Regions from separate parts of the Homo sapiens genome. Here region 2 is linked to region 1. The links come from fine-mapping of genetic effects on gene expression. A gene starts in region 1. The other region holds a variant in brackets. All regions are shown on one strand. Distances are between the middles of the regions.

What was found. PIP is the estimated chance that this variant, and not a neighbour inherited with it, causes the effect.
Region 2: its variant is the best candidate, but not a certain one, in a credible set for the expression of RCL1 in whole blood (TOPMed, PIP 0.52).

Annotation. Positions count from the first base shown.
Region 1 is chr9:4,790,780-4,795,168 of GRCh38, reverse strand. RCL1 (RNA terminal phosphate cyclase like 1) reads right to left here and starts at 2,225. Exons shown (of 9, transcript NM_005772.5): 1 at 1,942-2,225. The coding sequence starts at 2,077. RefSeq lists enhancers at 1,475-1,974, 2,049-2,098, 2,919-2,968 and a silencer at 2,179-2,538.
Region 2 is chr9:4,842,135-4,846,523 of GRCh38, reverse strand. RCL1 (RNA terminal phosphate cyclase like 1) reads right to left here. Exons shown (of 9, transcript NM_005772.5): 7 at 1,843-1,999. Among named protein-coding and RNA genes, the nearest start is that of MIR101-2, 6.0 kb to the left of the region's middle. RefSeq lists a silencer at 3,921-4,215. The variant A/G (reference allele first, on the strand shown) is at 2,310.

The DNA of each region.
Region 1 (4,389 bases):
GAGGCGGAGGTTGCAGTGAGCCGAGATCGCACCACGGCACTCCAGCCTGGGAGACAGAGTAAGACTCTGTCTCAAAAAAAAAGAAAGAAATTAAGCAGACAAACATCTACAAGGTTTCTGAGGCCCTGAAGCCAGCGCAAGGATGTACAAATAACTAGGAGTCTCTTTCTTCCCCTGGTATATGAACGGGGTAAGGCAAATAATGCTCTACAGTAATGTTCCCCATAAAATACCAGCACACCTGCCAAGCAGTTCTACCTCCCTCAGGTATCAGCGTCTGACACCCTTTCAAGAAAGTGCCAAGTGGCCAAGCCCTGTTCTTGGAAGAAACGGGAGCTCATATGTGTGAGATGCTTTGAAGAGATGCTCACATACAGTGGAGGGGGAGAAGGAGAAGCATACTTTGGAACATTAAATATTAAATTGGAGGCCACCTGTCAATAGAAAAACTCTAAATAGAACTAGATTCATTTTAGAGAACCCAGGTTTCCAGGCTATACTTCCATTTCTCTGGAAAAAAAAAAAAAAGTTATGCCTACTTTTATACAAAGTAGAAGTCCATCTTCTTACCATATCCAGCTAGTGGCAAGTTCTCTGAGCTAACCTGAGGGTAAAGTGGATGGAGAGCTGGCTGAGAATGCCACACAGCAATCAAGCAAACACTTTGCCCAAGGGTCAAACTAAGTGGAACACTTGTTGACGGAAAAGTCGTGGCATAAACCATTTGTGGTCTCTCCCTAACTTTCTCAGTGTTTTTGAGCAGTAGAGAGAGGACAGGAACCACCAACACAAGTTTTTCCTACCATCACTAGGTTTCTCACCACTGTACCTGGGATATTCTGCTTCTTTCCTTCCTAACCTATCTCCGTCAATAGCATGGCATCTTCTGCCCTTTATGTGCAGCCAATCACCACCCAAGAGAGGCAGAGATCTAACTATCCAAAAAATGCATTCAGACAGATAAAACAAGAGCCAGTGCAAAATGAAACACATCAGCGCCGCTCAGGAAGCTTCCAGGACCAACCACAAACACTCTTTTTCAATTTACAGACAGGTTTTTTCCTTTTTCACCTGACTACTGACTCGCCCAACTTGGGATAACCACCAGTCAGAAGCTTTTAAATGCATGTATCTCATGCCAGGGGGCCAGGTGTAAACCAAGGCCAGTTGAAAACCGGCGCCATTTAATGAGATGTGGGTTTAAATGGGCCTATTTCTTTTTAACCTACCATTGCAGAGCAAGAAGTGAGCTTGGAAGCCTGCAGTTTAGCGATTGTCACCGACCCCTTTTCTAAAGTCAAGGCAATTAGGCCCATGACTGTTAAAAGTCTATCTCAAAGCTCCTGTCCTGCGCACATCAATCACAGTCACGGCTGAAAACAAACACAGAATTTTAAAAATTTCTTTATCCACACCCAAGGACAAGTGTGAGGGCAGCCGAGAAATCATGGCGACAGGAACAGCCGGTGTCCAAGGGGGCAGCTGCTTCTGAGAACTGCTTTGAGACAGGGCAGAGAACCAACCCAAGGTACTTTTCTCTCCCAATGTCTCTCCCCCGGCTCATTCACCATATTTCGGTCCAACAAACTGTTTTTCTCCTTTGAGAGGTTTATGGCGAGGGCAAGAGGGGCCGAAGGGACGCGAAGGGGCGACGCCAGGGATTTGTTGCTACACGTAAAGCTGGAAAACGTGCAGCTGTTTACTACCAGCGCCCCGGAGACGCCGAGCGCAGCTTGCAGCTGAGCGCTCCCCTCGGGCCCCGACCCCGCCTCCCCCACTGTGCCTGCCCCTCCGGCTTTGGAGGCGACGCGCCACCTGCCCTCCCCGACGCGCTCGCCGGACGCCGAGCCGCCCAACCAACACCGCGCGGGCCCCCACGGCATCAGCTCGGTCTCCCCTCAGCCCCCGCGCCCACGCCGCGCGCCGCCCACACCAAGTTACCTCGGAGGCCCGGGTTGTCGTCTCTGGCCCGAATCTTTCGGATTTTGACGGGGCGCCCGCTCAGGGTAGACAGGACCAGACGTTGGCGCAAGAAGTTGCACCCTGCGTAGCTGAGGGAGTGCGCCTGAGTCGCCATGTGCGCGCTCTCCGAAGAGACGTGAGCAGCCCGAGAGCGGCGACTTCGGACAGACGCGGGACTCGTGACTCCGATGGTGGTGGTGGCGGCGACACCGACGGCGGCGGCTCGGGCTGCCTCCAGCAGCCCAGACGCGTCCACGTGGTTTGGAACAGGAAGACGGAGAGACTAGACACCGGGTCAGAGGGGAGCGGGGCGGAGCCAGTGGCCACCTCCCCGCCTCCCCGCCCGACCGGGGCGGCCCCCGCTTCGGGCCACGCCGCTATTGGCCCGCGCCGGATCAGGGCGGTGCCCGCGCCGCGCCTCCATTGGCTTCCGCTGAAGCTGGGCGGTGCCCAAGCCGCGCTGCCATTGGTCCGTAGTGGAGCTGGGCGGTGCCCGGGCCCTGGCAACAGCGCGCGGCTGGAGGGAACGCGGGAGGATGGCCAGGGAACCCCGGCGCGGGAGTTGCCAGTCGGGGCAGTCTCCTCTGTGTACCTCCTGGCGTGGTAGCAAGGGGAGATGGCGGACTGAGATTGATGCCTACGACGTGCCGGATTCTTAGCATTACTACTTACGGCAACTACTGGGGTGAAGATGCTATTATCTACCCCTCCTCTTTCTTACTAAGAGAGACAACAAGGGTTGGTGCACTCACCCTATCGCAGGGATGCCGCTCAGCGCACTGCCGGCGCAGTCCCGCAGCTCCATGCTGTAACCCTGCAAGGTAGAGCCATCCTGTCCTACTCATGGATAAAGGCTCGAGGAATATTGCAAAGCTGACAGTGGCAGCCTATACTGAGACCCGAATCCTCCCACAGCAGGCCGTTGCTTATTTTATTGAGACACCTCTTTGCCCCTTTCTCACGGGTCCCTTCGTTTATCGTCATTGCGTTTCATGGCAATTCAGGCCCTCCTACCTCGCATGCTTCAAGATAGATAGTTGTAATAACTTCACACACACACACGCGCGCAATGCTTTTTCCCTCTTTCCCGTCCTCCTCCAATCCTGCACAAGAAAATCTTCCCAAACGTTGGATTATTTCACTTCTCTACTCAAAAACCTTCCAAAATGTACAGTTAACTAACAAATGACTACACAAGTAGAAGTCCGATATCATAGTAATGTGGGTTTGTAGCCATTCCTGGACAACACTCACCAAACCATGAGTCCCAGAATGCACGGGGGTTCGCGGGGGGAAGGGGGGCGGGGTATGATAGTGTCTGAAAGCGGTGGGAGTTTAAGATTAAGGGATGTAGCTAGCCTTATGTAGACAACAGTGTGTTATAAAGTGGAGTGGAGTGGCATGCTCATGACTCACTGCAGCCTCAACTTCCCGAGTTCTAGTAATCCTCCAACCTCAGCCTCCCCATTAGCTGGAACTACAGGTGTGCACCACCATGCTCAGCTAATTTTTGTATTTTGTATAGACATGGGTTTTTGCCATGTTACCCAGGCTGGTCTCAAACTTCTAACCTCAAGCGATTGGCCCACCTTGGCCTCACAAGTGTGAGCCACCACTCCCAGCCTTTAATCCATTTTTCTTTGATTTTTGTAAATGGCAAGAGATAGAGATCTAGTTTCACTCTTTTGCATATGGATATCCAATTTTCTCAGCATCATTTATTGAAGAGACTGTCCTTTCCCCAGAGTATGTTCTTGGCAACTTTGTCGAAAATGAGTTTACCGTAGCTGTGTGGATTTATCTCTGCGTTCTCCGCTCTGTTCTACTGATCTATGTGTCTGTTTTTATGCCAGTACCATGCCATTTTGTTTACTCTAGCTCTGTAGTATAATTTGAAGTCAGGTAATGTGATTCCTCCAGTTTTGTTCTTTTTGCTTAGGACAGGTTTGGCTATTCTGGGTCTTTTGTGGTTCCATATAATTTTTTTAATTTTTAATTTTTGTAGGTAGATGGTACATGTATATATGAGGTACGGGAGAAGTTTTGATACAGGCATGCAATGTGTGATAATCACATCCTGAAGGATAGGGTACTCATCCCCTCATGCATTTTATTCTTTGTGTTATTATACAAACAAAACAATTATACTGTTTTAGTTATTTTTAAATGAAAATTAAATTATTGTTGACTACAGACACCTTGTTGTGCTATCAAATAGTAGATCTTATTCTTTCTAATTTTTGTACACATTTATTATCCCCACCTGCCCCCCAACATCCCCACCCCCTCTATGTTTTCCAGTCTCTAGTAACCATCCTTCTACTCTCTATTTCCATGAGTTAAATTGTTTTGATTGTTTGATCCCACAAATAGGTGAGAACATGTGATGTTTTTCTTTCTGTGCCTGGCTTATTTCACTTAACATAA
Region 2 (4,389 bases), 51 kb before region 1:
GGCAACCTCTTGATCATCTACCCCAAACTTTTAGTTACTACCCATTTTTCACAAAATTATTAAATTTAGCATAAAAAAGTAAACTGATTTAGCACCAAAACATCTGAGGCCAGATCGTGACTGCACAAGACTTGTCAAAGAATACCTCCTCCTTCAGGAAGATTTCATCTCCTTCTTCTACTATTTCCCAGGTGAATGCCGAGTAGAGGGGCTGGAGCTACTCTCCTGAAAATAAAACTATAGGTCCACTGTCTTCCATTTTTAATTAGATGGTCATTAAATAGAGCCATTTAGGACCTGGAAATTTAATTAATTCTGAAACAGCTCATTCTCATGTGTTCCATCTTGGACCAATGAGACATTTTCAAGAACACTGACTTGGATCAAGGGAGTAGACTATAAATATAAGCTGTTTTCCACTGTGAGGCTGGTCTGAGGATCAATACCTATGGCTAGTCAGGCTTTACCCTACCACCCTGATTAATAAACTGAACCAGTGGCAAAAGGAAGAATTAAAAGAAAAACTAAATTGCCACTTTACCTGTTTTACTGATTTTATTTAACTTGGCTCAGATGTGATTTTTGCTACCATAAACGAGAAAACTTACTTGGAGACCAGAAAGATGCCTGACAACTGAGAAGAAATACACAGAACAATACAAAGAAAGAAGTCTCTTCAGCTCCTTAGGGGAAGAAGAGAGATGATTTACAAACATTATACACCATACAACAGCAAATCAACTAGAGTATAGTTCTTGCTGATGCTCAGTTCAAGAATCTGGGACCTAACACACAGAGCAGAGAAACGACCATCCTTCAGAGCCTTTCCTGGACTCTGCATGTCAGAGAAAAGGTTTCACCTTCTTGATGTGGGACCAAGGCAAAAGACGGTGCAGACTAACAGAAATCTTGGACCCAGATTTGTGACCCTCTTCTAACCAAGTATAGGGGATCTCAGGGAATATATCTTTTAGGAAACTGTATCTTATTCTTTCTGCCATCATCTTTCCAAATTTCTCCCTTACTTTAGGTCACCTCACCTATTTTGAGGAAACAGTAAAAGTGTGTGCATGCATATGTGCCCGTTGCAATGAAAGGATCAACAGAGAAAGACTGTGGCAACTGAGAGGGCAAATTGGTCTCAGCTGTGTCCCACCAGCAGACCTGCAGAAGCAAAATGACAACTGGTTGAGTCTGTCTTCAACATCAGTTTACCCCTTCTCTGTTCCATGTTCTTAGGTTTTCCAAAGCTTCTGCTATGCTGTGCCACAGGCCTGCCTTCCCTAGTTATTCTGTGCTTTTTTAAATTTTTTTCTTCTTTTCTAATACTTATCTGTTAACTGAGATTCTGTGCTCTAGAATGCATTGCAAAATCTAGCCTGTTGCTATTGTTTTATATATGAATCAACTGTCACATACAAATCCAGATTTCTAGCTTCTCTTAAAAGATCTAAAAAGAATGAGTCCATCTTCCCACATGGCAGCAATCGGGGGGTGCCGGGATGGTACTCTCTTTGGCTAGGGCAGTGTGTCAGCCACCACCTTACCTTACCTGCTTCCTTTTTTTAACCTTCCCTTTCCTTTATGACTGTTCCAGTTCTTTCCTTGGCTCACTGTTAAAACTTACCTGCCCTGTGTCTCAACCCAGTGGGGCTAGATCTCTACTCACTGACTGGTTGAGCTAATCAATTAAACTAGTTAAGGCTGAACTGCTTAATGCACAGGAACAGATTATCTCCTTGGCTTGAGCCCTTGGAAGAGGACGAAAGCTGCCAAGAGATGAGAATGAGAAAACAAACTGCTTCCTGGTCACTCCTCTATCAGAGGAAGCTGTGGACATACCCTGTAGATTTCCTCCAGCAGCAGCCGGGCACAGTTCCTGCCAAGGTCCTCTGGAAGTACTGCTGCTCCCTGGCCCTGGGGGTTGGAGGCCAGTTCAGCACTGAGGAAGGTGCCACTGGTGGTCTCAGCAACCAGTGACAACCCAAAGCCCGGAGACCTGGAGATACAAAGGCACAAACACTGAGTAGGTTTAACCAAGTGAGGTTTCCACTCACCAGCAAACGGAAAGAGAAGACAAACATTTTTTTTGACGGCACTGTGTTCAAAGGCTTCTTTCTGGCTGCATTAACCTCATAGAGTTGCTACTAGTTTACTAGCTGACCAGAAAAGAAAATCAGTCCAAAAACAAGCATCTCTCCACAAAATTTTAAGATTTGACAGCTCAATTCTACTTTCCCAATGACTGTTAAGTAGACACATCAACAGGAAAGGTGTGGCGGCCTTCCCAGCAGTACAATCCGTATGCA[A/G]CCACAACACAGACCTGCCCCCTTTAACACAACTCAACACACGCTCACACAATACTTTCTATGTGTCTGGCAGGAGACTAGCCAAAATACTTGTTTCACTAAAACTATGTATAAAATTAATGTTTCGAATGCACTATATGAGCTCACTATATAGAAGAACTATGTTAGTCAGTCCTTAGATTCTTAAGGAAAAAAAAAATTTGCTTGTCTATGCAGTCGAAGGTTAACAACACCTGCCAAGGAAAGGGGGTGCAGTGAGTTACCCATTTCATCAAAGGTTCTGGGAGGCACTCTGAGTTATGCTTAACAATCTAACACTGTGCTATCCACCTATCATCATGGGACACCTAGAGAATTTTAGCATAATCCCAAATTGCCTTTGAGTCACCTGACCAGCAGAAGTGAGAGGGTGTCCAGCAGTGGCTGCAGGCAGTGGCATACAAAAGTGAAGATTAGAAGATGAAGGGGAGAGAAAGCAAGACAAGGTGCCACTGCTGCTTTACCCATTTACCTGCATTTCCCAAGAATTTCCATCTGTGTGAGTTTTCTAAGGTGTATTTGTCATTACGATAAACTTTATATTTAATCAGAATTATTCCATTTAACACAATTTAAGTAACTTTAGAAAAGACAAAGAATATATATTAGGTTCTATGTAAATTACTCTAATTTTTCTTCCCAACTTGTGGGAAATATGTGTTATCAGGCCTATTTCAAGTTAGGCTGACCAAGCTGCTGGTCATCAGGTGACCTCATTAGAGATATGCACTGGTATAGTTTGCAAAGGCCAGCCTCCACAGCTTTCCTTGGTAAAGGACCCAATTAAGAAAAAAAAAAATTACTGTGAGAGTTAAAATGGGACCACACTGGACTGATGTGCATTCTGGCCAAAGCGCTGACATAGGCCACCAAGAAGTGCTGTCCCCTAAGGTTCTAGGCCATGGCCACAACATAAACTCTTACATCTGAACAAGCCTGACTTACTGGATACTTCACTGAATCAGAAGAGAGAAATACCCATCCATGACTTTATAATTTTAATAACAGAGAAGGAAGAGCACTATTAGTCATCTGTAACTGGAGATTTAAAAAAACCAAACACAAATTTAAATCCCACATTGGTTTTACATGTAATTTTTAAAATGGGGCTTGGAGTTGATGGCCCACAGTCTACATCATGTCCATGTCTTTATCTACGTGTAAGGCTTCTACTCACCATTAGTAAGTATGGACTTGACCACACTCTAGGGTCAGCTGAGTCAGTGGTATAACAAAAAGCCACACTATAAGCTGGTGGCAGGATGGCTGTCAGGCCTGCTCTGCTTCATGCCAGGACACTTTCTGATAAAGCGAGAGGCAAAGCAGAGAAGGGACTATCGAGATGAAGCCATTTAGACAGCTTCTGCTGCTATCTGTCCTCCCCCATCCCTCGGAAATCCCCTTTCTCCAGAAAATAGCTGACACATAATTCCAGACCTGTGGCCAACAAGGGAGAGTAAAGGAAAGAACAGCATCAGGAGCTACCATTTCTGTAGGACTTACCATGTGACAAGCAAGGTATTAATGGCTTATATGTGTGATCTTTACAATAACCCCAAAACATAGGCATCATCACCCTCAATGCATAAATGAGGAAAATACTGTTGTTACTAGAATATAAACCAAAGGTTTAGGAACATCATTGACTTTTCCAAGCCAGAAAGTCCAGCTTTGCCCACAAATCCTTTCCCAACCCCAGCGTTATGACGCCACCAGCTTTGTTGCTTTGGACTATGAGCCTCCACTGTATTTCTAAAACTACCTTCATCTTTCCATTGGGCCTTATAAAGGTCAAAGGTTGTATAAAACACTCACCCCCCTCCTTTACTCTCTTTTCCTCTTTTTGCTGAAATTAAAAGAAACCACAGGTGAAACAGCTGTGAAAAAGGATCAGCTGTGGCATCACTTAAGAAGAAGTTGACTTCTTAACCTACAACAGTTAACCCCAGACTCTAATATTCTTATTTTTAGGAGACACAACCTGCAAAGCCTCAGATGTGAAGTGAAATGATGCCCATTCACACTGAAATGATTCAGTAAA